Linked DNA regions of Homo sapiens. The protein of the gene in region 1 interacts with the protein of each later gene in a biochemical or structural test. Each region holds a gene or a part of one and is shown on either strand. Other genes may lie near its edges.

Region 1 (3,500 bases):
ACAAAAAATTAGCCTGGCATGGTGGCGGGCACCTGAGGCAGGAGAATGGCGTGAACCTGGGAGGTGGAGCTTGCAGTGACCCCAGATTGCGCCACTGCACTGCAGCCTGGAGACTCCGTCTCAAAAAAAAAAAAAATTTCAATAGTTAAAAATGGATGCTGAGTTTAAAAAAAAAAAAAAAGGTTGAGTTGAGAGAATAAGGAGATTAGAAAACAAAAAAGGTACTTAGCCCCATGAGAGTTTTTTTGGTTTGTTTTCAGGTAGAAAATAGAGTTAGTGGATTGGGGAGGAAGGATGGTTCAGGAAGAACAAAGAATTTAAGACAGTTGAGGGCCTCTGAAAGTGGTCTTGGAAGTTCAACAAATAACGTGAATGTTGAGCTCTCTCTGGTCTAAGCTCTTAAACTATGAGAATATCTAATTATAGCTATTTCGGTTTGTAAGAGATTGGCTTTTATGTAAATAAAAAATTTTGTATCAATGTGTTTGCATATATATTTTTACGAACTCTAGCTAAGATGATTGTCTCAGCATATGTTCAGGCATGTTCTCTCTCCTAATGGAATATATTATTTATGTGAATTGTGATGGAGTGTGCCTTTAAAAATAGGGTGAAAGTAACTGAAAGCAGTGGACTCATTTGCTTGTTTTCTTAAATTAAGCTTATGTGACTCACCCATTTTCTGTCTTGGTGTAGGAACTTAGTGATTTGGCCCGTGACCCTCCAGCACAATGTTCTGCAGGTCCAGTTGGGGATGATAGTAAGTAACTTGCAAGTTGATTTTTATGCCTAATTTTTTTTTAAGCTTGTGCATTTTTAGATAACCAGAGTTTTTTTTCTTTTTCTAGTGTTTCATTGGCAAGCCACAATTATGGGACCTGTAAGTATTAAGAATTTTTAAATTTAGTTTTAAGTGAAAATCCAGCATTGATTTGGTTGTAATTTTTAACTTGGTCTGTAGGTTTATTTTATCATATAGTTAATTCTATTTTGGATATTCCATAGTTGTACTGCATTTGAAAGAAAAAACATAATGAGTTAGTCATTTGTTACGTGTACTTTGTGTCTATCCCTGTGTTCACGTTCTAGAGTATAGCCATCTCTATGACCTACCAAACATCTCTGTATCTCAGTTCAGTTTTTCTACATAGCACTGTGTAAAGCATTGTCATGGAACTTCCTGTTATTTATAGAGACAAAGTTACTGGCTCTGATATGCCATGCGTTGTGTTACTCAGAGATCTTATTCTGTTACTGCAGCTGCCAATAATCTAGCTTAATTGTATTTTGATATTTGATTCTTTATAGAACTTCAGTTTATGCAAAATTTGAATATATTTAGGCAGAAAGTGATATTTTGAATATAGCAAAATTCCTTTCTATCCTGGGTAGATAAGCAACTATATGCTGGATAATTGAATATTCAGAATTATGGATACCATCTAAGAATTTCAGAGAATTAGAGCGCACTAAAACATCCTGGGGTAAGACTGTATCTTACACAAATATTTAACTTTTTTTTTTTTTTTAACTTGCTAAGGCGCTTAAGGATTTGTTTTCTAAGTTACATGTGTATCTTCCTGAAAACTGTCTTCCCTTTTTGGTGGTTTTATAAGCAACATAAAGAGCAATAATGTACTAGGTGAGATAATGGTCAGTAAGTAATATTTAGAATTCTAAAGGAAAAAATGCTCTTAGAGTTAGTAGATGAGTCGAATCAACAAGTATTTATTTAGTAATTCTGATTCTAACTTTAGTCATTTTTCTGTCTCAAATGTGAGTACATACTGTGTGCCAGGTAATAAGGATACAAATTGAACATAATAAACATCCCTGTCGATCTTATAGGGAACTTACACTGTATTAGAGGAGACAGATACCTAAAACAAGTGCTGAAGTGTGACAAGATGGAAAATAAGTGATTGGTGAATGAAGTGCTGAGTAGGATAAATTAATGGGAAATTGAAGCAGGGAGGATTAATTTAGAGTAATTAAAATGTTAGTGCCCTAAAGGTAGAAAAACTAAATCAAAGTAAGACATGGCAGGGGTGCAAATATTAAGTTTAATACTTTGAAACGTCCTGGATCATTTTAAAACAAAGTAACATTTAAAACAGTAAAAATAGTCCTGTAATAACGAAATGCACAATCCTGGCTTTGTAGTTATTAAAAGTACTTACTTTTATCTAATTTGGTAGCAATATTGTTTAATTTTAATACACGCAGTTAAATGTTGAGTTACCCAGTTTGGCCCACACGATATTTTTGAAAGTTGGCAGTCTTCAAATAAAAGCCTTCTGAGTAGGCCCACATTCCATAAGCAGTAATGGCTTGGGATGGAATGACAGCTGCCTCCCTTTTTTAGATGGGATATGTGTTTACCACAGTGCCTACTAGGTCAATTCCATATTATCTGCCTAGTGTTTTGTAAAGCAGTTGCTTTTGCAACCTCTAGAATTTTCCCATTTTGGATTACCAGTTTTCAAAGAATGCTATAAAATGCCTTAAAATAAAGCTCATCTTTGATTCAGAGGGTAGTTGATAGTTTCATTATAAAAATTGTCAATACTAAGAAAGCACAGAAGCGTTGGTAATTAAAACTTCTAATTGGATGGTGTGCAGAATAAACTAACTCTTTAAAACTAGTTGGTTTTTCTGCTTGACAGTTTAGACTTTGTTATTTTGAACAACACACTAGTTTTTCCCAAAAGGCAAGGAACATACCTATAGACAATCAAAAGGAAACATGAATGATGAGTGTATGGTAGTAATTTTTTTAGAGAATGGTGTTGCTTATTCTGACAGATTTTTTAGCAGTTTACTTAATTTGCTGTTATTTTGAGAAAACATTTACCTTTTTTCATTTTTTAAATATATATTTCAGGTGATGGCTATTCCTTGCTGAACTTTTTCAGCAACCTTTTAATATAATGACTAGCAGTTTTCTGCTTTTACAAACAGAAGCATGTGATTTTCAGAACCATTTAAATATTAACCTGATTAACCACAACTGCTGGGTTTTGCTTTGGTAGCAGTACTCACTGAAATATGTTTTCAGTTAAAAAGGTTAGTTCTCACTGTTGGTTGGGTAAATTTCAAGAAGGAGTCAAAGATTATAAAAATCCACCCAAAGTACGGGTATTGTCTTGTACATAAGTAAGCACATAATTTAGATGCCAGCTTTAAATAGTTAACTATATGCTTACTGTGGAGTGCACCAATGAAACAACTCATTTTGTTCTTTTGGCTTCTCAATACTTCTTTGTGACAAAGCATCACTGTATAAGATAAATAGTAGCTTATTTTGTGAGTATGGTTGCTCTATGTAGCAAGCAGTTGTGACCTAAAGCAACCCATAAATTACAGATTTAGTGGGAGAACTGGACAGTTAACAACGTCACTTTTGCTTTGGACTACTACTTAGGTCCCTTAAAGTGGTGCCAGTGCCACAGAACTGAAGATTCCTGACTGTAGGGAATATACCATCTAATTTTGAGTTT
Region 2 (3,500 bases), on another chromosome or scaffold:
TACTACATGCAACTGTTTCCTGTATTTAACAGCCTTTCTTTTTATTTACCTTCATGTGTCTAGCTTCCACCTACCGAAAGAGTTTTAGGTTGGCAGACAGATGGGTGCCTTATTTTCTGTGAAACTGAAGTTTTAAACACTGGCCAGAAAATGTTTGATTGCCATTTCAACACATGGAAATAGTTACATTGATGCCTAAATTGCCATTTTCTGCAAAAAGCTGTGCAATGCTGGTGTCAAAGACTAGACAGTCGCTATTCATAATGGCTGTTGCAATTCCTTCATGAATAGATCGAGGAGTCGCTTCCCAAGTCAATCGTCGCCTATGACCATTTAGCTCAAGTCGGTAAGCAAAATTTTCAGCTTGCTTGCGTGTTCCTATCAGCTGTACGATTGCGAAGAACTGCTGGTGACCATCGTATTTTTCCTGTTTCTCTAAGACTAACATGAAGTGAAAGCCAAAACAGGACTGCATCATCACCCAGTCAACAGCACCAGGAAGATTAATGTCTGTAGCAAGAAAAACTATATCCTCTCCCTGTAGGGTTGTAATGGACTTATGCTGATGCATCAGATGGGGCATTACAGCATCCAGAGAGCCTTGCCATTTACAGGAAGCACCAGGGCACGGACAGGAATAAGGCCTAAACTCACAGAGCTCTTCATGGTCTGCTTTTTCTGTGTGTGGCAGAGTTATTTCACATCCAGAAGACGCATATTTACAGGGGAAAAGTACTGAATTAGCCACTTTCTCCATAGCCAAGTTGCGAATGGATCCCAAAGGGCCCCGGCAAGTTGGACAACATGTGAGCTTTGGGCGACAGTTGCTACAAACAAGATGGCCACTCTGACATTGAAGAATGGGCGGTAACACATAGTCAAAGCAGACTGGACACTCAAAAAGACTCGCCAAGTCATTGTTGGATGCAGTTGTGCCAGTCAGGGCAGGCACCCTCTGGGATGGTGGACACTTCGAGGTACCGGTAGGTAATGCTGTAGCAGTCTGACGGCTCATTTCTGAAATAAATACATAAGGAGGCAGGAGAAAAATAATTATAACCATGACTTACTTTATAAATAATGTTTACATGCCATAAGTCCTTTTAAAGTTTCATACAAAATTTACTGAGCAAAAGAGGAAGAAAAATAGGATTAAAAAAGATATTAAAAAAATAAAATTACACTGAATGTGCACTTTATTAGGATCTGTACACTGGATAAGCTCTCTTTTCAAAATGTTCCGGAAAACATGTGGAACTCCCTTAATCGTCTTTGGATAGACTACATAGAATAATAAATGCTAAAATAGAAAATGGACCATAAACAACTAAAGAAACTATACAAGGAACTGAAGTTTAATCGAATCCGTTTTGCTAGGACTCTCCCTGAGGCTCCCTTACTCTATTTCTTTCTAATTTGGAGTCAGCTGTTGATAGGTACAGGGAGTTACAGGTGAACTCCTGTATAAAATCGGCACTCTGTATCCACACGGTCTGCATCCGAGGACTTCACCAGCCATGGATTGAAAATATTCAGAAAAATTTATAAAGAATACAAAATTTTTAAAATACAGTCTATAACAACTATTTACATATTGTTTACATTGTATTAAGTAATCCAGAGATCACTTAAATTATACAAGAGAATATGCACATACAAATATGACACCATTTTCTATCAGGGACTTGAGCATCCTCAGGTTTTGGTATGGAGAAGGGGGTCCTAGAACTAATCCGAGGATACCGCGGATTGAATGTAGTTCCAATGCCAAAGAATCAGAGTATCACCTTCCATTAACTCTTCTTAATGGTAAGCAATTATCTACTCTAGAGGTGTATTTTGGAAATGAGGGGAAGGGTCACAAGGGGAAAGGTCTGCTGCCATCCCATTATCCATCTCTATCTAATTAAGTCTTCCCCCCAAATTATCACCAGCCAGGTATTAATCTTATTTCCTACTGATCAGTGCCCACCTCAAGAGTGAGGGGATGTACTCGCTAGTGAAGGTGGCGAAAATATAAAAATAAATAAAAACACAACTAAGGTGAAGTGAGGCATGGGAGAAATGGAGGGCCATCTCAAAACTTTTTAGTCTGGTAGAGAAAGTATATCTTTCTGTTCTACTTTCAATCCACAATATGTGTCAGACATAATGAACAAAGGAGGACAGTCAGGAAGAGACAATGAAAAAGGAAAGAATAAAGATGATAGCACGGCAGAGATATATGCCATACTGGGGGTGGGGGATGGAGTCAACAGGTGAAGAACCCCTTGCAGCCTAGGGTTCTCCAGCGTTGCTGAAAACATTCATCAGCAGAGTAATAAACATTATTTAACAGGTAAATATCATCTGGAAGAAATAATCGACAATGTAACTAGCCAGGCTGAGTCAAAGATAAAACAAGCAACTTTTCCCAGGAAGCTACCTGGGCTGGAAAATGGCAGGCCACTATTTGTCTTGGGGGTGAAAAAAAAGATCAGTCAATGTCCTAAGACTGCACTCCTAGTAACTCTACTAAGCCATAATCTTTTTTTTTTTTTTTTTTTTTTTTTTTTGAGATGGAGTTTTGCTCGTTGCCCAGGCTGGAGTGCAATGGCGCGATCTCGGCTCACTGCAACCTCTGCCTCCCAGGTTCAAGCAATTCTCCTGCCTCAGCCTCCCAAGTAGCTGGGATTACAGGGGCCCGCCACCATGCCCGACTAATTTTTGTATTTTTAGTAGAGACGGGGTTTCACCATGGCTGGTCTCGAACTCCTGACCTCGTGATCCACCCGCCTCGGCCTCCCAAAGTGCTGGGATTACAGGCATGAGCCACTGCGCCCGGCCACTAATCCATATTACAAAATTAAAGCCTCAAAATTAATGTTTTATCTCAATTATAGTCATTCTGTTGCAAGGAACTTTTAAGAAGCAATGTTGGTTACCAATGTGACCAAATAAATGCAACTTAGGTTTAGATTACCCAAGTGGTTACCAACTGATAGCTTAAATGAGGGCTGAGGGTGACGGAAAAAATAAAGATTAATTCCACGTCACTAAACGGGTATTTTAAAGTTCCAGAGGCAACAAAAGTGACAATTCCATCGTAATGTGTCTCATCATATGGACTCAGAACATGAATCAACTCTCAATCTGAAGCCCAGTGTGACCCAGGTATTCTGTCCCCTGACAAAGGACTATAAGGGAGCTCTCCTGTAATCCAGTTTCCCTCTCAGTAGATTCTTTGTACATATGACATCCATTTTATGTCACTTGTAAAACAGTGGGCTCAGCATTGCCAAAACACCCTGGCTGTATGCTGTATGCCTACTGCATGGTCCAGTTTACTTCAGTAAGCAGCGTAACAATTACAAAGTGGTTCCTTGGGCAAAAAACAGTCTAGTCAACCAATGCCTTTCAAATTACTAAATCAAACCAAAGAATCACATCCAAGGGCAGTAAACTCAGTTTATATTTAACACAATATAGCTACGGACCAAGCAAAACACTGTTGTTCACAA

What was found. Proteins that work in one complex are often made in the same cells at the same time.
Region 2: the proteins of UBE2D3 (region 1) and SIAH1 form a complex in vitro, tested with the Homo sapiens proteins (3 studies listed by BioGRID).

Annotation. Positions count from the first base shown.
Region 1 is NC_000004.12:102,807,052-102,810,551, reverse strand, and holds part of UBE2D3 (ubiquitin-conjugating enzyme E2 D3), read left to right. Parts: intron 1-696; coding exon 697-760; intron 761-848; coding exon 849-880; intron 881-3,500. UniProt on the Homo sapiens protein: Accepts ubiquitin from the E1 complex and catalyzes its covalent attachment to other proteins. In vitro catalyzes 'Lys-11'-, as well as 'Lys-48'-linked polyubiquitination.
Region 2 is NC_000016.10:48,361,414-48,364,913, forward strand, and holds part of SIAH1 (E3 ubiquitin-protein ligase SIAH1), read right to left. Parts: intron 1,591-3,500; exon of another isoform or gene 1,018-1,590; coding exon of another isoform or gene 1,016-1,017; coding exon 167-1,015; coding exon of another isoform or gene 64-166; 3' UTR 1-63. Other genes in the region: LONP2 (lon protease homolog 2, peroxisomal), read left to right, coding at 64-183. UniProt on the Homo sapiens protein: E3 ubiquitin-protein ligase that mediates ubiquitination and subsequent proteasomal degradation of target proteins.